Linked DNA regions of Homo sapiens. The protein of the gene in region 1 interacts with the protein of each later gene in a pairwise test. Each region holds a gene or a part of one and is shown on either strand. Other genes may lie near its edges. The genes, in order: DNM2, PIP, CSF2 and PRKAA2.

The links.
Region 2: the proteins of DNM2 (region 1) and PIP interact in binary tests that used the Homo sapiens proteins (3 or more experiments, as listed by UniProt).
Region 3: the proteins of DNM2 (region 1) and CSF2 interact in binary tests that used the Homo sapiens proteins (3 or more experiments, as listed by UniProt).
Region 4: the proteins of DNM2 (region 1) and PRKAA2 interact in binary tests that used the Homo sapiens proteins (3 or more experiments, as listed by UniProt).

What each region holds. Positions count from the first base shown.
Region 1 is NC_000019.10:10,819,049-10,826,082, forward strand, and holds part of DNM2 (dynamin-2), read left to right. Parts: intron 1-931; coding exon 932-1,041; intron 1,042-4,739; coding exon 4,740-4,851; intron 4,852-6,008; coding exon 6,009-6,173; intron 6,174-7,034. UniProt on the Homo sapiens protein: Catalyzes the hydrolysis of GTP and utilizes this energy to mediate vesicle scission at plasma membrane during endocytosis and filament remodeling at many actin structures during organization of the actin cytoskeleton.
Region 2 is NC_000007.14:143,128,079-143,135,087, reverse strand, and holds the start of PIP (prolactin-inducible protein precursor), read right to left. Parts: upstream 3,012-7,009; 5' UTR 2,972-3,011; coding exon 2,877-2,971; intron 1-2,876.
Region 3 is NC_000005.10:132,069,659-132,076,689, reverse strand, and holds CSF2 (granulocyte-macrophage colony-stimulating factor precursor), read right to left. Parts: upstream 2,902-7,031; 5' UTR 2,867-2,901; coding exon 2,708-2,866; intron 2,610-2,707; coding exon 2,568-2,609; intron 1,881-2,567; coding exon 1,755-1,880; intron 946-1,754; coding exon 838-945; 3' UTR 520-837; downstream 1-519. UniProt on the Homo sapiens protein: Cytokine that stimulates the growth and differentiation of hematopoietic precursor cells from various lineages, including granulocytes, macrophages, eosinophils and erythrocytes.
Region 4 is NC_000001.11:56,711,280-56,715,835, reverse strand, and holds the end of PRKAA2 (5'-AMP-activated protein kinase catalytic subunit alpha-2), read right to left. Parts: 3' UTR 501-4,556; downstream 1-500. UniProt on the Homo sapiens protein: Catalytic subunit of AMP-activated protein kinase (AMPK), an energy sensor protein kinase that plays a key role in regulating cellular energy metabolism.

The DNA.
Region 1 (7,034 bases):
GGCCCACCTCTGAGCTGCCTCCCTAGCAGTCTGGACAGCCGTGGCTGGCACTTGGTGCTTCCTGAACAGGGCCAACCTTAGAAAGCAAGTGATAGGGCAGGTGCGGTGGTGCACACCTGTAATCCCAGCACTCTGGGAGGCTCGCTTGAACCCAGGAGTTTAAGACCAGCCTGGGCAACATAGCGAGACCCCATCTCTATTAAAATAATGATAATGATAATAATAAAGAAAGGGAGTAAGGCTTCTGCAGCACCTGGCCCAGGACCTATCCAGCCCCAAGATGTCCTAAAGCGGCCAAGGTTGAAATCCCAGCCCTGCTCCTCTCTGCCTCAGTCTTCCCCTCTGTAAAATGGCATCACAGAGGTAACTCACTCCTAGGCTCGTTTCAAAGATGGAGCCCAGATAAAAGTTCCATTCACTTCGTGCAAGGCGAGGGGCAGTTGTGTTGTGCGTGCCGTCAGCCACATGTCAGCAGTGAACTCAACAGGAGTCCCTGCCCTGGAGAAACTTGAGTCAGTCCAGTGGCAGTCAGCCACCTAGGTCAATAAGCACAGGCAGTCAGGCACCTAGGTCAACAAGCGCAGGATACGTGACGTGTTGTGTGAGGGAAAAGGAGGATGGAGGTGGGGAGGGTGCGGGTAGAGTTAGGGCAGGAGGGAGCCATGCAAGTGTCAGGATCAGGCAGTAGCCCGGTCGTCCGAAGGCCCTGGGGTAGGAACCCAGGTGGGATACTCAGGGAGCATCATGGAGGGCAGCGTGGCTGGGACAGAGTGACGGACGGGGAAGGGCCGGCAGATGGGCTCATATACAGCAGCGACCAGCATTGAGAAGCCCCCGGGGCTGGTGGTGGCGCATGCTACACGCTCTGGCCTGGGGCATCCTGAGTTGTCACGTGGACCGCTCAGGGTGACTCTTTTCCCTCCACCCTCAGGAGAAAGAGAAGAAGTACATGCTGCCTCTGGACAACCTCAAGATCCGTGATGTGGAGAAGGGCTTCATGTCCAACAAGCACGTCTTCGCCATCTTCAACACGGAGCAGAGGTGAGGGGCCCAGGGGCCTGGGGATGGCTCGGGGTGAAGACCAATGGCCTCATTCACACTCCACAACCTTCACTGAGCACTGAGCACCTGGCTGTCAGCAGTCCCTGCCCTTGGGACCCAGCTTTTAGAAAGGGGAGTCACGTGAGAAATAGCAAATGCCAGGGATGCTTCCCGTGCTGGGTCAGAGATGACCTCTCTGGGCAGAGATGAGGATGAAGGCAGGCTCCGAGTCAGTGGGAGCCATGGAGAGTTCTGAGCACAGGGTGACCAGGACCTGGCTCAGGTGCTTGCAGGAGCCCTCTGGTGGCTGAGAGGGAAACAGTATGAGAGGGTGAGAGATGGGGGACGAGGGCAAAGGCCGCTGCCTTGTCCAAGTGGGCGATGATGGGGCCAGAACCCATAGGGAAGGAGGGTGCAGATTCTGGGTAGAAGAGTCAGGCGGAGCCCTGGTGGGCATGGATATGAGAGAGAAAGGCACCAATTGTGACCCTGAGTACGTGGGCCTGAGCTCCTGCACTGCCCAGCTGCTGCCATTGGCCGAGGTGGGGAAGGCAGCGGCAGGTAGGCCTGGAGACAGCCAAGAGCTCCATTTAGGCCATGCCAAGGGAGAGGGTGCATCAGGGAGGCACCTGGGTAGATCGAGGAGTGTGATGTCCAGGAACGAGCTCCAGTCTGGGATGTGAACTGGGCAGTCACCATTGCGTGGATGGTATTTCAAGGAACGAAACCAGATGAGCTCCCAGGAGAGTGAAGCTGGAGAATGGGAGGCCCCAGGAAGCTCACAGTACATCTGTCCCATGAGGCGTAGCTGGAGACTTTAGCAGAGACACTGCTCTCAGGAAGAAACCCAGCTGGCAGGAGGGCTCTTCCCATGCTCACACAATCACGCTCATCCAGGAAGCAGGGCCCACCTGAGTCAGGGATTAGCTGTCAGTAAAGGCCCGGTGGTACCCTGAGACCTGTAGGCAGGCACTGACGTCCTCCCTGCTGGCCCCAGAACCTCCTTGCCTACTGCTTGGCTACACCCACCAACTCCAGCTGAGTCTCCTGGTTCCCTCCTGCTTTGCTCTGGCTGGCCTAAAGCTCGAGACCCATTTGTCCACCAGCTGGCCGTGAAAACCTTCATAGCTCTTCTAGGCTTGCCCCTGGCCATATGACACCTGGCAGCTGTCCCAGGTCCCTGAGCCGTGTGCCTCCTGTACAGGGAGGGTGACAATATTATCTGATATATCTTTTAAGAGCAGGTTCAGGAAACCCAGAGTAGTAGCTGCAAAAACAAGATAAGATGGTTGATAGTTTTTTGTGTAAATTAAGTCCAGACTTTAGTATCCCGGGCAAAGTGGAGCAGCTCCACAGGCATCAGGGTCCAGGCCCTGCATGTTCCTCAGGATTCCACCTGATATGCAGAAGCCGAGCTCTGCGGTGGGACAGGCCTGCCATGAAATCCTGACTTTTTTTTTAAACGGAGTTCCGCTGTTGTTGCCCAGGCTAGAGTGCAATGGTGCGATCTCAGCTCACCGCAACCTCTGCCTCCTGGGTTCAAGCGATTCTCCTGCCTCAGCCTCCCAAGTAGCTGGAATTACAGGCATGCACCACCACGCCTGGCTAATTTTTTATTTTTAGTAGAGACGGGGTTTCTCCATATTGGTCAGGCTGGGCTCGAACTCCCAACCTCAGGTGATCCACCCACCTCGGCCTCCCAAAGTGCTGGGATTACAGGTGTGAGCTACTGCACCTGGCCCAAAACCCCGACTTCTACTTCTTTGTCCAAAATGGCTGCCCAGACTCCAGCCATTGTGATGATGTCCCAGGCAGCAGCAGGAAGGAGAGGAGGAGCTACAAGGGCATGCCTCTCCCCACACAACCTCATCCAGAGGTCGTTCGGGGCAGCCACTTGCTGACCACAAACCCAACTCTCACTTAAAGGCTTTGTGGGCAGCTTGGCTGTCTTAACCACACCTGGATGTGGGACAGGAAAATGTGCGTGGCATGTGGCACGGGGCCTGGCCTGTAGACCACCATCTGCAAGCACTGTTTAGCATCCATTCCATTTATCTCCCAGCTTTGAGACCCTGGTTCTTTTTTCTTTTTCTTTTTCTTTTTTTTTTTTTTTTGAGATGGAGTCTTCCTCTGTCACCCACCCAGGCTGGAGTGCAGTGGCATGATCTCAGCTCATTGTAGCCTCCACCTCCCATGCTCAAGTGATCCTCCCGCCTCGGCCTCCCGAGTAGCTGGGACTACAGGCGCACACCACCATGCCCAGCTAATTTTTGTATTTTCTGTAGAGATGGGGGTGTTGCTGTGTTGCTCAGGCTGGTCTCCAACTCCTGAGCTCAAGCAATCCCCCTGTCTCAGCCTCCCAAAGTGCAGGAATTACAGGTATGAGCCACCATGCCTAAACTTTACAAAAATTTTTTTGTTTTGTTTTGATACATAGTCTCACTCTGTCGCCCAGGCTGGAGACAGTGGCACAATCTTGGCTCACTGCAACTTCCACCTCCCAGGTTTAAGCGATTCTCCTGCCTCAGCCTCCCGAGTAGCTGGGATTACAGGCATGCAGTACCACTCCCAGCTAATTTTTTGTATTTTAGTATTGACGGGGTTTCACCATGTTGGCCAGGCTGGTCTCAAACTCCTGACCTCAGTTGATCCTCCTGCCTCAGCTTCCCAAAGTGTTGGGATTACAGGCGTGAGCCACTGTGCCCAGCCAAAACTTTTTTTATAAAAAACACACAGGCCGGGCACGGGGGCTCACGCCTGTAATCCCAGCACTTTGGGAGGCCGAGGCAGGTAGGTCACGAGGTCAGAAGATCGAGATCATCCTGGCGAACACGGTGAAACCCCGTCTCTACTAAAAATGCAAAAAATTAGCTGGGGTGGTGGCAGGTGCCTGTAGTCCCAGCTACTCGGGAGGCTGAGGCAGGAGAATGGTGTGAACCCGGGAGGCGGAGCTTGCAGTGAGCCAAGATCGCGCCACTGCACTCCAGCCTGGGCGACAGAGCAAGACTCTGTCTCAAAAACAAAACAAAACACATTCGGGCACAGTGGCTCACACCTGTAATCTCAGAACTTTGGGAAGCCGAGGTGGGCGGATCAGCTGAGGTCAGGAGTTCGAGACCAGCCTGACCAACATGGAGAAACCCCATCTCTACTAAAAATACTAAAATTAGCCAGGTGTGGTGGCGCATGCCTGTAATCCCAGCTACTCGGGAGGCTGAGGCAGGAGAATCGCTTGAACCCGAAAGGTGGAGGTTGCGGTGAGCCGAGATTGCGCCATTGCACTCCAGCCTGGACAACAAAAGCGAAACTCCGTCTCAAAAAAAAAAAATAAATAATAATAATAATAATAAAGTTCTGGTGGACAGTGCTGCTCTGGGCTTTCCTGAAAATGCCCCAGTGGGAGCTTCCCAGCCACAGTTGGTGTCGAGGGTCACATGCCCACCTCTGGGGGCCCAGGAAAAGAGAAGAGTCAGCTGATCCAACAGAAACAAAGAAACTCAGACACTTGCCGAGCTTGTGCACAGCGCTCTTCTGTGTAGGCGTCACTCACGGTGACCCCTCAGCATGACCAGGTGAAGCCTGGGTTGGGTTTGGGTTCCTGATCAGTCAGAAAGACCCCTAGAGCCCATTCCTCTCGGCAGTCTGCCAGACCCATGGCAGGGTCAAGCTTGTGCCCCTCCTTCCCCACCCCCCCGCAGAAACGTCTACAAGGACCTGCGGCAGATCGAGCTGGCCTGTGACTCCCAGGAAGACGTGGACAGCTGGAAGGCCTCGTTCCTCCGAGCTGGCGTCTACCCCGAGAAGGACCAGGTGAGGAGCCGTCCTGCGCAGCCAGGCCCAGAGCCCCCACCTGGGAGAGGAAGCAGGGCTGGCTTTCCCCAGGACAGGTCATTTTCAGGCCATGTTAGCCAGGAGTCTCTGAAATCATGTAGCAGATGCCCACTTGAGCAAGCAAAGGAGAAATTGGGGGTACTTTGTCATCAGGGCCCAGAAAGTTCCCTCACGGAAGCCAGTGACCGGGGCACACAGGGGATGGGGTCCCACTTGCTTTGTTCTCTTCTCTTTTCCCCTTCCATCCTGAGGTAGAGTGAACATGGCCACCCTTGGCCCCAATATTAAAATGCCTTGCCGGGCACGGTGGGTGGTTCGCCCCTGTAATCCCAGCACTTTGGGAGGCTGAGGTGGGCAGATCATTTGAGCTCAGGGGTTCGAAACCAGCCTGGCCAACATGGTGAAACCCCGTCTCTACTAAAACTACAAAAATTAGCCAGGCATGGTGGTACGTGCCTGTAATCCCAGTTACTCAGGAGGCTTAGGCAGGAGATCGCTTAAACCCGGGAGGTAGAGGTTGCAGTGAGCTGAGATCACGCCATTGCACTCCAGCCTGGGCGACAGAGCAAGACTCCATCTCAAAAATAAAATAAAATGTCCCAAGGTTGGGTGTGGTGGCTTACACCTGCAATCCCAACACTTTGGGAGGCAATGTGGGCAGATCCTTTGGGCCCAGGAGTTCGAAAACAGCCTGGGCAATGTTGCAAAACCCTTCTCTCCAAAAAATACAAACATACCCAGGCATGGTGGCGCACCCCTGTAATCCCATCTACTCCAGGGCGCTGAGGTGGGAGGATCACTTGAGCTCTCCCTGGGAGGTTGAGGCTGCGGTGAACTGTGTTTGTGCCACTGCACTGCAGCCTGGGTGACATAGCAAGACTGTGTCAAAAAAAAACAAAACAAAAAAACAACGTTCCAATGCCCAGGTGAGGGGATCCACCCCAGCATCAGCCAGGGTCACCCCATTGTTTGGGCAGCTCTGGCCCAGGGCAAGCAGGCCTATCTGGTGCCAGTGGGGCTGTCAGGGGCCAGCCTGAGGTCAGTTATTGGTGGGACAATAGGGCAGATGGTTTCCAGAGAACCAGGACTTGGCCCAGGCCACAGTCACCCCTCAGCACCTCCCCTCCCGCTTGCAGGCAGAAAACGAGGATGGGGCCCAGGAGAACACCTTCTCCATGGACCCCCAACTGGAGCGGCAGGTGGAGACCATTCGCAACCTGGTGGACTCATACGTGGCCATCATCAACAAGTCCATCCGCGACCTCATGCCAAAGACCATCATGCACCTCATGATCAACAATGTGAGTGGAGAACTAAAAATGAGAAGGAGGTAGCTGGGTGCGGTGGCTCACGCCTGTAATCCCAGCACTTTGGGAGGCCAAGGCGGGCGGATCACTTGAGGTCAGGAGTTCAAGACCAGCCTGGCCAAAACGGTGAAACCCCATCTCTACTAAAAATACAAAAATTAGGCTGGGCGCGGTGGCTCACACCTGTAATCCCAGCACTTTGCGAGGCCAAGGCGGGCGGATCACGAGCTAAGGAGTTCGAGACTAGACTGACCAACATGGTGAAACCCCATCTCTACTAAATATACAAAAATTAGCCGGGCACGGTAGCTCACGCCTGTAATCCCAGCTACTCAGGAGGCTGAGGCAGGGGAATCGCTTGAACCCAAGAGGCAGAGGTTGTGGTAAGCCTAGAGTGCACCACTGCACTCCAGCCTGGGCGACAGAGTGAGACTCCGTCTCAAGAAAAGAGAGAGAGAGAGAGAGAAAAATACAAAAAGTAGCCGGGCATGGTGGCGGGTGCCTGTAATCCAGCTACCCGGGAAGCTGAGGCAGGACAATTACTTGAACCTGGGAGATGGAGATGGCAGTGAGCCAAGATCGTGCCACTGCACTCCAGCCTGGTTGACAGAGCGAGACTCCATCTCAAAAAAAAAAAAAAAAAAAAATGAGAAGGAGGCCAGGCACCCTAGGCCATACCTGTTTGTAGTCTTAGCACTTTGGGAGGCTGAGGCAGGAGGATCACTTGAGCCCAGGAGGTTGAGGCTGCAGTGAGCTATGATCATGCCACTGCACTCCAGCCTGGGCGACAGAGCAAGACCTTGTGTCCAACAACAGCAACAACAAATTTGAATGAATCACCACCCTTTGAACACC
Region 2 (7,009 bases), on another chromosome or scaffold:
ATTATGGGGCTTGGATCAATTGTTCAGCATTGGAATCCCCTGGAATTTTCATGTGTTGATTGGATTGGTAACTTCACACAGATTTAATTTTGTTTAATAAAACAACTAGGACACTTTAAGATTCCTTAAAGAACTAAAAGTAGAACTACCATTTGATCCAGCAATCCCACTACTGGGTATCTACCCAGAGGAAAAGAAGTCATTATTTAGAAAAGATACTTGCACATGCATGTTTATAGTAGCACAATTCACAATTGCAAAATCATGGAACCAACCCAAATGCCCATCAATGAACGAGCATCTTCTTCCCTTCCATTGACCAAAAACAAGTTTTTAAAAAGAAAAAATGTACAATACCACATGCCACTTCCTGATAACATCCTACAGGCTCTGGTGGTTGTCTACTGAGTAGGAGGGCTCAAGTCATTATTAGGAGAAAATTTTCTAGCAACAGAATCACATTAAACCAGCAAACCTCTTGATCAGGGAAATGCAAATCAAAACCACAATGCGATACCACCTTACTCCTGCAAGAATGGCCGTAATCAAAAAATCATAAAACAGTAGATGTTGGCGTGGATGCAGTGATCAGGGGACACTTCTATACTGCTGACGGGAATGTAAACTGCTACAACCACTATGTAAAACAGTGTGGAGATTCCTTAAAGAACTAAAAATAGAACCACCATTTGATCCAGCAATCCCACTACTGGGTATCTACCCAGAGGAAAAGAAGTCATTATTCAAAAAAGATACTTGCACACACATGTTTATAGCAGCACAATTCACAATTATAAAACTGTGGAACCAACCCAAATGCCCATCAATCAACGAGTGGATAAAGAAACTGTGGTATATATATATATATATATATATATATATATATATATATATATATATATATGATGGAATACTACTACTCAGCCATAATAAGGAATGAATTAACAGCATTTGCAGTGACCTGTATGAGATTGGAGACTATTATTCTAAGTGAAGTAACTCAGTAATGGAAAACCAAACATCGTATGTTCTCACTGATATGTGGGAGCTAAGCTTTGAGGACTCAAAAGCATAAGAATGATACAATGGACTTTGGGGACTTGCGGGGAAGAGTGGGAGAGGGGTGAGGGCTAAAAGACTACAAATATGGTGCAGTGTATACTGCTCGGGTGATGGGTGCACCAAAATCTCATCACCACTAAAGAACTTACTCATGTAACCAAATACCACTTGTACCCCAGTAACTTATGGAAAAATAAAATAAAATAATAAAAAATTTTAAAAACCCAGCAAACATCTCAATGCACTGGAGGTATTTGTAGGAGCATCTTTGAAGATCCTCCTTCTGTGGTCCCCAGGTAGGGTTTAGGAATTTGTATTTATTTAGCTCCTTAGGAAATTTGGACATATGGCCATGTTTGGGAACTTTAGATACTACTCTACATTTAGACCATACACTGCAATCTGAAAAGGAAAGGAAATGGAGACAAATAAAATGGTCAAATGTTCTTCTTCAGTCAATGAGGACTGGGTTCGGGGCCAGGAGAGTTATTTTCTCGTCCCTAGAAACTCCCGGCTACGGACCTTTGTTATTGTGTGGGACAGAAGGGAATTGAGATTCTTAGCCCACAGTGTCTCACAGCCCCATTTTCTTGGGGCAAAGCATCTTAGAGAGATTCTATTTTTTGGTGCCAACTGCTGTAGTGCCCAGTGCACAGGAAAAGGGTATAAATACCTAAGCAACTTCAAAATCTCTCCCATTTGTATATGAGTTTCAGATTGATAGGATGACCAGCTTAGTTCGAGTGACTAACCATCTCAGTTTACCCAGGACTGAGGTCTTTTCCAGAATGGGTTGTGGAGGTGGCGGGGGAGGGCAGAGTTGCAGTGCTACAACCAGGAAAGTTCTGGGCAAATCAGGATGGATGGTTGATAACCTAATTAGCATAGCTTATTTGAATACCTTGCTGCCCTTCAGGGCTAAGTGGACTGTCATCTGGCGGGAATGGGGTGGGATCTGAACCTGTCCCCATGCAGGGTTTCTTGGGACACTTGCCTCCATTACATTAGCTTGTCAAAACCCTGAACAGTTTCCTCCAGGACAGGATATCTGACCATGCCATAGAGAGTACCTCCAAGATCACAACCCAGAAACCCAGCATTATAAACCCTACTGCTATAGAGAAAACTCCCTAGATTGGGTATCGCTGCTTTCTCCCAGACCCTTGGCTCCATTTTCTACTTTATTTTACTTGCTCCAATTTTTCTGCTTCCTTCACACATGTGTTCTCAATAAGTTGACTTCTGAACCTGTGCTCTCAGGTCCCAGTATACGTGAGAGCAAGAGGTCATCATATTCATCTTCAGACTTCAGGTTAGGAAGAATGTCTAAGCTGCCAGTCTAGCTCAATCTCAGACCACAGGGCAGTGGCCAGGGCCTCTGGTCCTTTAGCCAGTCCTGCCAAAGCTGCCCTAAGCTGCCATTGGAATTCACAGACCTGTTATGCTTCTCTTCTAGGAGGCAAGGTGTGAGAAGGTAAAGTTTACTGAGCAGAAATCTGAACAAAGGTATAAATTATGAACAAGATGTGGATCAGCATGTTAGATGAAGACTAACTACTAATTACAGCCTGTAGGTACATTTGGAGCTTTATTTCCACTGGCAATGCAGAAACACCCAGCAAAAATGTGAGAGGAGTTGGTGGGGCTTCCTAAGAGGACAAGAAGTGGAACCTGGCAGGAGATCCATGGGAGCTCCTGGGACTAGAGTTCTGGGAAGTTGAAAGAAATTCTCAGAAAGAGATATGTAATTTCCAGACTGGGAGAGGAGCCCTCCCTGCAATTTTTTTTGTGGGGAGGAGAAGGGCATGGCTCACGTGTTGTCCTGAGCTTTGTTGGCCCCCAACTGCAGGCAGAGAACCAGGAGCAGGGTGGCAGGGCTGGCCCTGAACAGGAGCTGGAGCAAGCGCATGCTGGAGAAAACAGAAGGCAATGTGTCCCAGAGAAGTGGTGTCCCAGGTGCCCAGCACATTTCTTATATACAGATTGATCAAGGAAGTGCAAGAGCTGCCAGGGAGATCCATGAGGTGAATCACCCATTCACCCTCCCCACTCGTGATCTTTCCTTGTTGACCCAAAGTTTGTTTTTCTAAGAAAAAATCAACACTCAGCTAGAATGTCAGCGTTTGAGAGAGGAGTCAGATTGTTCTTCCTTATTTTTTCAGCATCAGAGTTTCTCAAAATGGCTGGGACCTCAAAAGATACACCAGTTTTTCCCGAGTTTACAGATTCAGTTTTCTTTTCCCTCCTAATTTGCCTGTCTGAAGTGCTATGTGTAGTCTTAGCTTCAGTCACTGCTCCCCTGGTCTCTGAAAGCAGAGAACACAGCTGTGGTGGCAGGTTTCAGACCAGAGACATAGAACATCTTTGCTTGATCAAATTATAGTGAGTTCAAGATGCAATGCTATTCAAAACATTTCTTGGAGGGCTAGGATGATCAGGACTTCCCTAGCAGTCACTACCCATCATGAGGTGGAAGAGCTAGAGAAGACCTGAGCTGCTCTACATGATGGGGAAGTGAGTTCAAGACACTGGGTGATGTAAAGATGTTTATTGTCATTGAGTCCTTCTTAATTTCAGGTGTGGTTGCAATATACTGCAGATGTCCAAGATCCCCAGCTGCCCCACAATCCCCAAGGCAGGGTGATATTTTAATTCTAGACAATTCCTATAAATAGCTGGCACCCCCAAATCAGACTTCTTGGCACCAAAGAGCTGGCTTATTTTCTTATTGACATGGCCACTTTCTTACACTTGTCTCATGCGTAAGCCACACAGGAAGAACCACAGTGGAAAGGATTCCTTCTGTGAGAATGGAGCCCACATTATGTCCAGTAGATACCCAGGTTGTAGAATTCCTCTCCTTGGGATGATGGGGAGACTTGCTCTTGCTGACACTGGCATTGTGTTATTTCTCCTTATGAAATTAAATCTGCTCCTTAACCTATGACTTACAATACTATGGGATTTGTTTCTATCATTTGCATGGCACACAGCTGCCCAGGAAGAGCCTCTCTGGCAACAGAGTGAAAATCAGAGTTCTAGGAGTTACCGCCTCTGTATGTTGCTTTAGCCAGGATTCAGAGCTAAAGTGTAAGTGTGTGCTTCTGCTTTCTGGATGTATCTCTCAAAATTGCTCTGTCTGTTTATTCAGCTCCTGGATCTACCTTCTCTTTTCTTTGAATTGGACACCATTCATGTCATTGCTCACTCAGAACTTCAGCTGTTCTCATGATCACATGCTTTCTTCCCTGTTTATGTCCTATCCACTCAAGAACACTGCTTGTGAGGGTCACAATGACCTTCCTTTGTAAGCCTTTTCCCACAATTAAATTGTCTTTACACCTGGTCCTTCTCACTTGCATAATTTCCATTTGAAGCACATCCTAGCTACACTGACCAAGGCAGGCATAAGGCAGAAGAATCTAGGAAGTGTCTGTGTGGGAAAATGCAGGAAAAGTTCTTTGCTTGGCTCTTTGAAGGCATAGCCCTGTCCTTGAGGATGCAACTCCAGCACTCCCAAAAGGCAGTGTCCAGAGGAAGGCAGATGACGATGGGTTAAGAGCATCTATTGAAGGTAATGAGGCTGTTCTTCTGTGAGCTAGCAGGAAACTGCAATACCTACAATGTACAGGACAATCTTTTTTTTTTGAGACAGAATCTCACTCATCCAGGCTGGAGTGCAGTGGCATGATCTCAGCTCACTGCAGCCTCCACCTCCCGGGTTCAGGAAATTCTCATGCCTCAGCCACCCGAGTAGTGGGGATTATAGGCAGGTGCCACCATACCCGGCTAATTTTTGTATTTTTGGTAGAGATGGGGTTTCACCATGTTGGCCAAGCTGATCTTACATTCCTGACCTCAAGTGATCCACCTGCCTCGGCCTCCCAAATTGCTGGGATTACAGGTGTGAGCCACTGTGCCTGGCCTAGGACAAGTCTTATTCAGGCCATGACTGCTGTGATGGTTACTTTTATTTGTTAGCTTAGCTAGGCATGGTGCCCACTTTTTGGAAAAACAACAGTTTAGAAGTTGCTGTGAAGTTGTTGTTTGTTTGTTTGTTTTAAATGTGATTAACATTTAAATCAGTAAAATTTGAGTAAAACAGATTACCTCCATAATATGGGTCAGACTCATTGGATCAGTTGAAAGTCTTAAGAGAAAAGCTTGAGGTCCCTTGAGGAAGAAGATTAGGGAGAAAAAGAAACCATAATTATTATGCCATAAAGAATGAACAAGTCTAGGTTTAAGAAATCAGATAAAGGTTGATAAAATCAGATTGTAAACAACTCAGGAAGCTTACAGAAGAGAATGTGTATAGTCCCATAGGGAAAGAGTTAGAATATAGGTGAGGCTTGCCACAGGCTAAGTTTACAAAGAGAAAGATAATCTTAGTCCTGACAGGGCTCATGAGAAGAAGATAAGGAGTGGACAGAGAGGGAGTTATAGACACCAACACACATGAAGCATATGCTGTGTGCATTACACTGCTCTAAACATTTTAACATATATTAGCTCAATCTTTATTACAACCCTGTGAAGGTGGTTGCCATTTTTATTCCATTTTACAAGAGGAGAAACAGAGACCCAGGAGATAAATATCTAACCCAGACCATATAGCCAGTATATGGCAGAGTCAACTTTGCAAGCAGGTTTTGTGGAATCTGAGTTTTGATTTACAGTATCTGAGAACCTCTTTTTGAAATAGAATCCAAACTTACAAATGTAAACTACAGGTACAGGATCTTGGAGGAGGCACCCATAAGTAGGAAGCCCTGAGGCTTCATGCCATTAACTTAATGGCGAATACACCTTTGGGTGGGGCCAGAATTTCCACGCTGGCAGTCTGGCCCTGGAACATGACCCTTTAACCACTGCACTGCCTACTGGCGAGAACAAGTTGCAAAGTTAGTAACTGGCAGAGTTAGGGGTTCAAAATCAAGTAGTCTGATACCAGAGTTTATGTCCTTAAACACTTGTCTAGTCTATTTATTGATGTAGCAACAGTTTAAAGTTGAGAAAAGGAAACTCACAGAGGTTTTAATAAGTTGTTCAAGTCACAGAGCCAACAAATAACAAAGGTATTGAAGTTTGGCTTGGCCATATGACTAAGCCAAACCATTGGAACCCAGATAGAAGTGAATCCGGAGTTGGCACTTAGAGTGACTACTCTATATTTCCTCTTACTTAATAAAAGCATAATTGGCACAAGACTTGTAGAAGGGCATCTAATGCATACTGAAGATGTAAGATGTAATGAGTTGTTTCTTAGAGGAGGTTATATCCAAGCAAAATCTCTCAGAGGTGAGAGAAGCTGGAGTGTGACTCTTTTCTTAGAAACTCTGTCATCTTTAGTGTCATTTCTTTCTTTCTTCCTTTTTTTTTTTTTTTTTTTTTGGTGGAGTTGCACTCTTGTCACTCAGGCTGGAGTGCAGTGGCGCAATCTCGGCTCACCGCAACCTCCACCTCTTAAGTTCAAGTGATTCTCCTGTCTCAGCCTCCTGAGTAACTGGGATTACAGGTGCCTGCCACCACACCCAGCTAATTATTTTTATTTTTAGTAGAGACGGGGTTTCACCATGTTGTCCAGGCTGGTCTCAAACTCCTGACCTCAGGTGATCCACCCCCCCTTGGCCTCCCAAAGGGCTGGGATTACAGGCGTGAGCCACAATGCCTGGCCTTTAGTGTCATTTCTAAGGTCACCCTGGTGATGTAGGGGCCAAGGGAAAACTTTTTTTCTGCCTTCTGAAGTTTCACTGAGAAATAAACTGACAAAAAGTAGATTAATAGGAGAAATGGCATACAAGTTTATTAACGTGCATGGGAGAGAATGATGACCTCCAACTCCTCAGTGGGAGTACAGAAGCTCATGTACCATCTTGAGGTTACAAAAGAATGAGGTCTTGGAGCATGGCCAAAACCAGGTTATGGTAGTAAATCAGGTTACAGT
Region 3 (7,031 bases), on another chromosome or scaffold:
CGCTGCACTGTGACCCCTGTGGTTTGGTTTCTTTTCCCCTGAACAGTTAGTCTATTTTGCTGTTTACTTTCGGAATGGTTAAATCTCAGAGTGTGAGGGGCAGGGCGTGGGGCACAGGGGCCAAGGCCTCTACAGGGCAGGTGTTTTGCCTGATGCCAGAGTGGGCCTGTTCAGCCAGTGACCAGCCAACCCCCAGGCCTCCCCAGGAAGGGTGGTGCCCTTCTCTGGGATAAGAGTTCCCTGGGCTGGTCACTTGGACTTCCAGGTGAACTTGAGAGCCATTCTCTGGGGTGGGAGCCCTGGAGCATCCCGGGAAGCCCGTCCAGGTGTGCAGAATTCCGCACCTATGCCCGGCTCTCACCTCCCCTCTGCTCTGACAGTGTTGGCCCTTGGATAGTGCCCAACGCCTGGGAGGCCCCCGCCCCCTCTCCACCTCCCCGTTTCCTCCCTCCCCTGCCTCATGGGAAGGCAGGCACCACTGGCATTTGCTCATGGTTAAAAACAAACTAGAACACTGGACAAGTAGAAGCATATTTTTAATAATAATTATTACGGTAAAACATCTTGAATAAATATGGAATATGAACTTAAATAAATAAATAAATAAATATTTTAAAAATATAAATATATAAATATTACTGATTTCTGTCAGTATAAAATATTCCCATTCTTCTGCCATGCCTGTATCAGGGTCAGTGTGGCCCAGGGCAGGTCCAGGCCACTCCCACCATGGCTGTGGCCCACCCCTTGGTCCCTCCAAGATGACCATCCTGAGTTTCTAGCTCTTGTTTCATGAGAGAGCAGCTCCCCGGCTTGGCCAGCCTCATCTGGCCGGTCTCACTCCTGGACTGGCTCCCAGCAGTCAAAGGGGATGACAAGCAGAAAGTCCTTCAGGTTCTCTTTGAAACTTTCAAAGGTGATAATCTGGGTTGCACAGGAAGTTTCCTTTAAAAAAAGAAAAATAAAAAACACTTGAGTCCAGGCAAGTGGGTAACGTGGGGGAAGGAAGCACCAGCATGTTTCTCTACTGCCTCTTAGAACTCAGAGGCCAGGAGGCCCACTCCAGGACACACCCACTGACCTGGGTCAGGTGACGCTGCTGCCACCCACGTGTTCCCCAAGGAGTGCATAGCTCTGCCAGTGGCAGCCAGAGTCAAGGGCCTGACTTAAGTGCCAGCCTGAGGTTGGCCTTCTGGGCAGTCAAACGCCTGCCTTTTTGGTCCCAGGGCAGAGCAGGGCAGCTGGGCTGAGGTCGTCTCTGGGCACCCAGAAGGAGTGGAGTCAAGGCCACAAACTTTGCTCCCTTCCCGCAGGAAGGAGTGCCTGAGGTCCTTGTCCATTCCAAGTAGCCTCCCTTCCTTGATCCTCTGCAATTCAAGCACCCCATGTGGGGCCAGAGGAAAGTCCTGCCAGAAGGTGGCACTTGGGCCTGGGCACTTCCTCTGGGCCTTGGGCAGGCCCCAAGTTTCCTTGGGTTTGCCCTCACCTCTGACCTCATTAACCATAATGACAATAATGACCAGGATAGGAGCAGCTCCTGCTGGGGAGCACTGTGGGCTTCAGCGCTCTGTGGCTCTGACTCCTTGGGATGAAATGGGCTGTCTGCCTCCTCTCTGGAGGGCTAATCATTACATAACTGTTGGCACAGAAACCCCCTGGGGTCCTGAACAGCCACAGCCATAGATCTCTCCCCATGTCGACCCCACCCCCTAGATTAAGACATTCCTGCTGGAGGCCCTGCCGTAGGCACTCACCGGGGTTGGAGGGCAGTGCTGCTTGTAGTGGCTGGCCATCATGGTCAAGGGGCCCTTGAGCTTGGTGAGGCTGCCCCGCAGGCCCTGCTTGTACAGCTCCAGGCGGGTCTGTAGGCAGGTCGGCTCCTGTGGAAAATGTCGTTCGTCGGTGAGCAGTGGCCAAGTGCCCACAGTGGTACAAGAACTCTCCACCACTCCTTTTTGCTGCTGCCCCCAGCCCCCAGGAGTAGGGCTTGGGAGGGGCACAGGCTGGGTCCAGTCATAGACCCTGCCCTGTCCATGGCAGGCACGAACCTGCCCTTCTCACTGCCCCGCCCAGGCCACCCTCAGCGGCACCTGGAGAGGAGCCCAGCCTTAGGGAAGGAGGTGACTCTCACCCCATCATTCAGGGAGAGGGGGGTGGGGCCTCACCTGGACCTGCTGGGTGGGCAAGGGTTGTTCCTGAAACCCCTCTGTGCCTCTCTGTAGTCAGCACTGTCTCAACAGGACTTGGTCTCGGGGCACAGTGAGCGCCCCAAACCCACAGCTCCTGTCTCATGAAGTGACCCCCACTTTACCACCTGTCCCCTGGTGACTCCTGGCCATTGAATGCTAGGTCTGCCCATGGCCGCTCAGCTGATAAAGGAGCTCATGTGACTGCCATAGGGGCACGGCCAGCAGCCTCTTGAGCACCCAGTTGCTACCCCCTCCTCCTGCAGCCAGCTGACTGGAGAGAAAGTGGACAACCCTGTGTGGTGCCATCTAAAATGGAGTCCCCACCTCCACCCCAGGGCAGGGGCTTCTGGAAAGCTATGTCAGAGAGAAGCATCTTACCTGGAGGTCAAACATTTCTGAGATGACTTCTACTGTTTCATTCTGTAGAAAAGGAAAATGTCATGTTATCAAGCTGACAGGCGTGGCCAGTCAGGGGCCAGCTGGGTGGCCTAGGCACAGGCCCACATTCTCTCACTTACCATCTCAGCAGCAGTGTCTCTACTCAGGTTCAGGAGACGCCGGGCCTCCTGGATGGCATTCACATGCTCCCAGGGCTGCGTGCTGGGGCTGGGCGAGCGGGCGGGTGCAGAGATGCTGCAGGCCACAGTGCCCAAGAGCAGCAGGCTCTGCAGCCACATCCTCCAGAGAACTTTAGCCTTTCTCTCTGTGTACTGGGCTCACTGGCAAAAGAGCTCTTAAATACACAGAGGAAATGATTAATGGTGACCACAAAATGCCAGGGAGGCGGGGGAACTACCTGAACTGTGGAATCTCCTGGCCCTTATCAGCCACACATGGGAACGGTGAGCCTTTTCCCTAGGTGGTCAGGCTTGGGGGTTTTCATTAATGAACCTTTCCAAGAACCGACAGCCCACCCACCCGCCTTCCTGAGGGCTCTCCAGCCCTCCCTGGGCAGTCTGAATGGGCCTGAGGCTGCCCCCTCCCTCTGAGGGGCACAGTTTGGACTTCCTGGCCTGGAATGGCTGGGGTGGGGCGTGGGAGACACTTAGATAGGGCTCCCCATCCTGCCTGTAATCCCAGGGGCCTTTGGGCAGGCTATGCCCGCCCTGGTGCCTCATTCTGACTCCAGCCTTCCTCTTCTCTGGCCACTGTGAGAGACTTGAGTGTGAGGGGAGCTCTCACAGACCTGCCCCACTGACAGTTCACATGGGCTCCCACCCAGGACCTGGAGCAGGGGGCAACCTCAGTCCAGTAAGGGGGGACCCCTGCCCCTGTGAGCAGAGGGAATGACCACCATGTGCACATCCAGCAGCGAGACTGCAGCCACTCTCAGCAAGCTTCAGAGGGGGTGTGGCTGGGTCAAGTCGGGACCCAGAGTCTGACTCTTGGCTCTGGAGCCACCTTCCTGAGTGACTCCCCTCTCTGGTTATGTGAACCTTGATTCCCTCTGCAGAGCAGGTTTGCCCCTCTGAGGTTCGGACTACACTCCTATATGTAGCCCCCAGAAGACACCAGGAGCTTCAGGCTGGCTCCAGGGCTGTGGCTGCATCCATCTCAGGTACAGGGACAATGGCTTCCCCAGCAAGGCCCTCCAGGCTTAATTTCCTACATAACCCCAGCATCCCCCAACTCCAGAGGCCTTTCTGTGGAAGTGTGGAAGTAGGAAATCTAAAGGCTCTTGAGGGGCTGACAAGTGTTTGATTTTCACAATGGAGTTCAGAGAAGACAGCACGAGTTTGTGTTTGCACAAGGTATCTGGCTCAAGCTGCCCCATGCCTGGGTTTCATAGCTAAAGGGGTGTGGGCCCACACGTGCCCATTTCTGGGTGTATGTGTGCTGCTGTGATTGGTTGTACATACAGGTGCCTGGTAGAGGGGAGGATGTTTTCCATGCAGATGCATCTATTGAGTCCTCTTACCTGCTTTATGAAAGGCTCCAGGCCTCTGAAGGTGACTCTGATACTGGAGAAGCTCCCTACTCCAGGTGCAGTGCCTCTGGGCCCTAGAGGCTGATTCAGCCTAAACCAGTGGGGTTGGACACAAGCGAGAACATTCTGCTGGACTCAGGTTGGCGAGCCTTCAGAGAGCAGGTGGAGTTCATGGCTTTAGCACTGTGGTCTGAGTCTGCAGCCCTGGCCAGTTTCCCTGTACTGTGGGAGTTTTTCTGACCTTGCATAGAGAAACCAAACCTTAGTCCTCCAGACCCCACTGTGAGGCCAGCCCCATCCATCTGAGCCTGCGTAGAACACTCCTAGTGGCCAGGCTGGGGTGGGAACATGAAATGTCCAGGCCCTGGCCCTTTCTCCACCTTTTTTGCAAGGCCTTGGCTCAGCTCTTTCCAGGGAGCTCTCGGGGGAGAGATGAGGACATGGATACTACATGTAGATATCACATGTGTTGGATAGCACCCTGGAGGCTGGAGGGCAGGGAAGGGAGCCATAGATAGTGGTTCAGCTGATGGCCAGGGAGGCAGAGAGCCTGTATGACCCATCTGGGAGAGAAGGTCACTTTCCTCCTAGAAATGAGTTGTCATAGCTCAGACAGTCAGTCAACAAGTCTTTCCAATCCACACCAGGACCTGTTCTGGGGAGGTAAACGGGACCCTCCCACTGGCCCTCACATTTGGCCCTTGAGGCTCCCAGTCTGGTAGGAAACAGACTGCAATGGACCCTCCCATGGTGTGACCTTGACTCGGCAGGGGGAAGTCCAGAGCTGAGGGATCCCAGAGGGCCACCTTCTCTAGCTTGGGGATCCAAGGGGACCAGAGAGCTTCACTAGAGATCCTGCCTGCAAGCCCAGGCTGAAAGGCTAGAAGTCAGGTGGGTACGTTGGGTTGGAAGGAGAGGGGCAGGAGAGGACAGGGGAGAATGTTCTGGGCACAGGGAGCCCTGGGGTTTTAGGAATGGGTATAAGGAACAGCAGGCAGACTCCAGAGAGATTGAGGAGGTAGAATCTCAACAGGACTTGGTGCTATAGTGAAGTCACTCAGTCATTCATTATTTTTTGAGCATCTACTAGGTTCCCAGCAGGGAAAAGGGACATAAGGATGACAAAAACGGTCAGGGTCCTGCCTCCAAGGACTTTTTAACCCCATCCATGGAGGAGCAAGATTAGTCTACTCACCCCCCTCCCCCCCCACCAAAGTGTGCTTTGAATGTGAGTAAGAGGAGTTAGAATCACTGTCCACATGGCTAAGGTGAGGACCCAGGGGACAAAGGAGCAGATCTTCAGAGCGTGAGGCCCACGGGAAGTTTTGGAGTTTCAGAGTCTGCATGTACAGGAGACAGATCTGGCAGCGGTACATGTCTGTGTGGTAGCTGAGGCCACGGAAGTTATTCAGGAAGAAGAGCTGAGGGCCAGCAAAGCTGTGTTTAAGGGCTGGGACATAACAGATGGGCAAGTAACAGGCCAGTGGCCAAGGGCCTAGGAGGGAAGGAAAGGAGGAAAGCAAGAGTCATAATAAGAAATCCATTTCGGCAGTGGTGGCCTGCAGGTGCCCAAGTCAGCACAAACAGGACAGAAATCCATGGGTTTGGTGATGAGGTTTGTGGGCAGCCACACATCTTTCTCATGGAAAGATGACATCAGGGCTGAGGCCATGACACAGGCAGGCATTCCTAGATTGCACTGTATTTTAAACAGTGTCAACCGATAGCCAGCCATGCTGACTCAGGGGCTCCGATGGGGCTGTGGCAGGGCAGAGGCGGGGACCACGATGGGTGGTATGACCCCTCTGGGGCCCCCCTTCCTACAGAGACAGGAGAAAACCCTCTGGAAGGAGTTTCCTATGCGTGTCCACCCCACAGGCTCTGTAGGAAACAGGGGCTTGAGTCACTCCAGGATCCTTATCACGAGAGACATTATCACAAGGGGAAGGAAATGGGCCTCAAAGTCCCTTCGGTACCATGGCACCCCCGCACAGGCTTTGGGGCTGATCTGATCCTTCTTTGACCTGTCCAACCCTTGATGAGGGTTCTTGTTATCTCTGGGGACCTGAGATCTGGGAGACCAGTGGTCAGCCCAGTCCACACAATCAGTGACCGCAGAACCAGAATTTGAACCCATATCTGTTCCTGCTATCCTAGCATTTTCCATTGTCTTGGGGTCAGGAAGTTGGGAAATGCTGATCACCTGGCTGGACCAGCAGGGGGTGGACCCAGCGTGCTTGTCCCCTCAAGGCAGCTGTAAAGAGAGATGCCTGCCAGGTGTTCGCAGGTAGGCTGGAGTGGCCTGTGACTGTCCCAGGGAAGTCTGGGCTGAAGGCAGAGTTTCCCCAGCAGATCCTGCCATCCAGGCATCTCTATGCCCCAGGCTTGGGCTCTTGCCCTTACCCAGCCACCACCAATCCCTGAAGCCTAGGAAAGTCCCTCCTCCCTGAGCCTCAACCCCTGCATCTGTACAATGGGTTAATGGCCACTGCCTCACCGAGGAAACTGTTGCCTGCCCCAGGAAACTCTGTGGGAGATCCTCCCAGGGAAGAGACAATCCTTCAATTTCTCCTCTGCCCAGTGCTAGGGGAGATTTCTGAAGCCCAAACTGGGCAGAGGAGCGAGGCCTGCTGGAGTTTCCAGGGACAGCTGCCCCTTGCCCAGCCCTAGCCGCAGAGGGCAACCTTCTGGACACACGTGGTGAGGTAGGGAGTCCGGCCTCCACCTGAGTCAGGGCTCCTGGGTCCTGCATCACCGACAGGAGATCCTGGTACCGCATGGCACCATGAGTGGTTTGTCCTTCCCTTGTCACTCCAGGCCACACCAGACATATGAAGCAACATCTCTGGCTTCTGCGGTTTCAGCCCCATTCTGTCCCCACGTGCATCCCCTCTGTCTCGGTCCCCAAATGTACA
Region 4 (4,556 bases), on another chromosome or scaffold:
CTTGTTGCTGGTTTTGAAGATGAAGGGAGCCAAGGGCCAAGGGATGATGGCCTCTAGAAGCTTTAAATGATTCCTAGCCAACAGCCAAAAAGGCAACAGGGACCTCAATCCTACAGCACCATGGAATGAAATTCTGCCAACAACTCAATGCAACTGGAAACAGATTCTCCTCCACAGCCCAGCCCTATCAATGCTTTGGTTTTCAGCTTGTGTGACTTGAGGCAGAAAAACCAGCTAAGCCTGCTGGGTTTCTAACATATAGAACAATAAAATAATTTGTATTTTAAGTCGTTAAGTTTGTAGTAATTTGTTACAGCAACAGTAGAAAACCAATGCAATAACTCAAGTTAAAAACTATAATGTACAACTAAGATGACAAAAATGAAAAAAGATGGTGTGAAATCACCAATGAGTATAGGCAATCTTTTCCACTAACAACTTTCCTGTAACTATTAGTTGGTGTGCAGAATACCAGCATAATGATGGAGCAGAAACAAAAATAGCTTTCAAATGAATCAGAGACTTTTAATTTGATTTTGTGAAAAAAGCTTATAAGCAATCAGACAGGCTGCTTTTCTCCTTTGTGTTTGTTACCTATGAGTTTCATATGGTGCAAACATTAATTAGGAAGAATCTGTAACTATGAAATGCTATGTAATTCAGGAAGACATCTTTTCCATATGGTTAATGAAAGACAAATCCTTCCCATATCATTTAACACTCACAAAAAGTATATAACAAACAAAACTGAAATTTGAATCGGAGTTTATTTGAACAGAAAAGCACTGGAAGTCTGTTCATTTTTTTTTCTTGAAACCAATTATAAAAAGTGGTCCCAATTTCAACAATTAAAAAAAATTTTCAATAAATACGTAATGAAGTACTTCAATGGGTCAATGTATCAACCTATGGATTTTTTTTTCTTTTTCAAAGGTATGCTAAGAATGAATGAATGCAGGATGTTTTTGAAAAAAAGTAAATATTATATCCTATATTATGATTGTCATGACACAACCAAATGGCTGTTTTCAGTTTTATTTGTTGCATTCAAAATCCACTGTATATTTAAGCATACATGACAAAGAACACAACCATTCTTCCTAAAACAATAAAGATACTATCCTTAGAGTTCACAGTTCTACAACAACTTTACATTAAATGTTCAAAACATTGTACAACCACAGATATTTGTGAACAGTCTTGAGAGCTGTATTTTGGTACATTAAGGCAGCTTCAGCCAACATTTTAAGAGATTCTGAATATTTGTTACAACACAGGACAAGTTTGATATTTGAATACTTGAGGTCTCAAGAAATATTAAATGTCACCTAACAACACCACAATTTGTGAAACTGTGATCTTACCTAAAAATCAAGATACTCATCCTATCAGTATCAAAGATACTTATTTTTTTTAAAAAAAGGAATTTACATTGAATGTGGGGATATAAACCCTGTATTTAAACAAGGGCTTTCAAACAGTTGCTCACACACATCTGTGAGGTAGGTTATTATCCACATTTTGTAAATCAAAAAACTAAATGAGGTTACGTGACTTGCTGCTGCTTCAGCAGCCAAAGGAAGAAACTGATTCCAAGTTAGATTTTGTTCTTAGCTCTGAGTTGTTTCCTTGACAAACTTTTTAAAGGGTTAAAATATAAAAACTGCCATTCATCAAATTCATTTATAAAGCATGAGAAGGTAGCCAAATGTTATGTTTACCAAGGTGACTTATAAAGTCAATCAACATGAAAGAAATAGGAAAATACATTTAGTGAACAACTTCTGATAGTGATAGGGAGAGGTTTGACCAAGGGAACTCAATCAGGCAGATGCAAACAACATGATCATTTGTAGGAGGCAGATCTAAGGAGAACTGAGAGGGATTAGAAAAAAAGAAAATATAGTTTAAACAAGTTTTTACTATTACTCTTCTTATAATTTAAGGGAGAAGGCACAATTTAGTGTTTTTTTTTTTTTTTTTTTTTAGAACAGTGGATCTCTCTTCCACTTTAGGAAAATGTTATCTGTCTAGAAAAATGGCCATTTTTGGTAGCAAAACTTAAATGTGTAACTGTGAAAAATGCACGTTTAAATTAGTAGAAAAAAAAATAACAATGCAATTCTCCTTGGCTAGAATGTTTTTGTTCCTCCTTGAAATTTTAAATCAACACAACGTAGCAACCCTCCCTGCCCACCTCAGAAAAGGTCACACTGTATGCACTGTATGAACCTTGTCAAAATTCTACGTATTATTCAAAAAAGTTTTCATGCCAGGATATTCTCCAAATTCTTTTTTCATTTTTTTTTCTGGAGAGTGCTCTATTCTAGGATTTAATTACACTTCAAACGTAATTGAAATTTACCTACCCTGCTTGTCCAAACAATCAAGAGCCACTTCCATAAAATCTAAACTACTTTAGATATAAACCATTTTTACCAAAAGTCACATCATAGTCACAACTGCAAACTGGCATTGCTATGCAAGGCTGGCAGTAAACATTAACATTAGCTTGCAAAATTAATACAGGCCTACAGTCTGATAACTCTTCTAGACCCAGCCTGATTCTTATCAGGCTATGGATGAAGAAGTTTAATTAAAACTCAATCCAGTCTAGACTGTGTGACCTGTTCTTTGTGCTATTACTGTTCAGTGGCATCAAATGCATCATAATTATAGGTGGAAAGGCTAGTAATGATGCCAGCAACTTGTTTAAATGAAGTTTTTATAATTTTTAAAGCTCAAACATAAGTACATTTCAAAGTTTTATAAGGTTTGGGAGAAACTCTATCAAGCTAATAATTCAGTGTTTGTAAATTAGAAATATATTCTATGAAAATAGTTATATCATGTAATATACATACAAAATGAAAAATCAATCTGCATATGAAATTTGGATAAGACTAATTCAGATAATAGTCAAAAACTATAACAATTTAGACAGGGACTGGGGCTAGTTTTCTTTTTCCTTTTTTTGTTTTTTTTTGAGACAGTCTTGTGCTGTCACCCAGGCTGGCATGCAGTGGCATGATCTTGGCTTATTGCAATCTCTGCCTCCCAGGTTCAAGAGATTCCCGTGCCTCAGCCTCCCGAGTAGCTGGGATTACAAGCAGCCTGTCACCACACCGGATAATTTTGGTATTTTTAGTAGAGACGAGGTTTCACCATGTTGGCCAGACTGGTCTCGAACTCCTGAACTCGGGTGATCCACCCACTTTGGCCTCCCAAAGTGCTGGGATTATAGGCATGAGCCACTACACCCAGCCTAGTTTTCCTTTTTCAAAAATGATTGTGCTATAAGAATCACATAAAATTATAAGAAGAATCATGTTTTAAAGTTTCTTCAGCATTTTTAAGCACCCTCAATAACTCAGAAATACTTATAAAAACCAATATGCTAATCATAAATACTTCAGATAATTACATCTCGTTAGTACAATCAACTGCTTAAAATAAACTAAGAACTATTTATTTAAGACTACTTTATGTCACTCTAAGACTTGAAAGCAATACATCTGTGTTTATTTTTACTACTCAACCACTCTGATGTTTTATTAATTCAGACTGTTCTTCCCCAGAGGAAAGGTGGTTTCCTATAAAGAGCAATTGATCACTGCTGGATACTTGTATGGTGTTAAAGCTTTATGAAGAGCTTTCTGGTCCTGCTTCCTCATCTGGAAATGGCAAAAATGCTTTCTCTGGTTACCTCTCAAAGTTATCGTAATAGTAAGTAAACAATATGAAGGGTCTCTAGATCGAAAAATCACTATAAAAAATATATGGAACACTTTCATCACTCCAAATTTGTAATGCTTTGCTTCATGCCAAATGGATGTGATGTTTCACCGTGTTTGGTTTTCTGGATGATTTTTGCCATTTGCATTCCTCCAGCAGCTGTATTTAGAAAAATATTCAAGTATATACCTCTGACATGCCTCACCAAATCAAAACAGAAACATTCACACTCATATAAAAACTCTAAATATATAAAAAGTGAACACTAACACAAATCATATGGAAAAGCAGAAAAGAACTTTAAAGCTCAAAGGTACCTTAGAAGTGTTAAAATCTACCTTTCTCATTTTAGGAGTTATAAAAATGAGGCCAAACATAGGATGTGACTTACCAACAGATTGCACATATCCCTCGTCCAGAGTTTTTAATAGAGTCTTTGAGAACTACTATTAAAATAAATTACATTCCCTATTTAAAAAGCCACAGGGTGACACAGGAGAACCAAGTAAATAAATGCAAGATTGAAAAGGTTTGGGTCTTAAAAACAAATAAACAAAAACAGACAAAATTGTGAACATGTCTAGCATTTAGACACTCAGCTTTTACAACCATTAATAGGATGTAAATTAGTACCCGGTGAATAGACAAAGTGGTGTCTGTGGCAGGCATGTTCCAGGTTTTTACATTTTATAAATCCAAAGTGAGGTGCCTACATTAACTCAGTACACTGCACATTATTCAATGCTACAGATAAATCCAAACAGATCAAAAATCTACAATAGTTGCTTATGATTTTTTCTAAACTATGTCTCATTTAACAG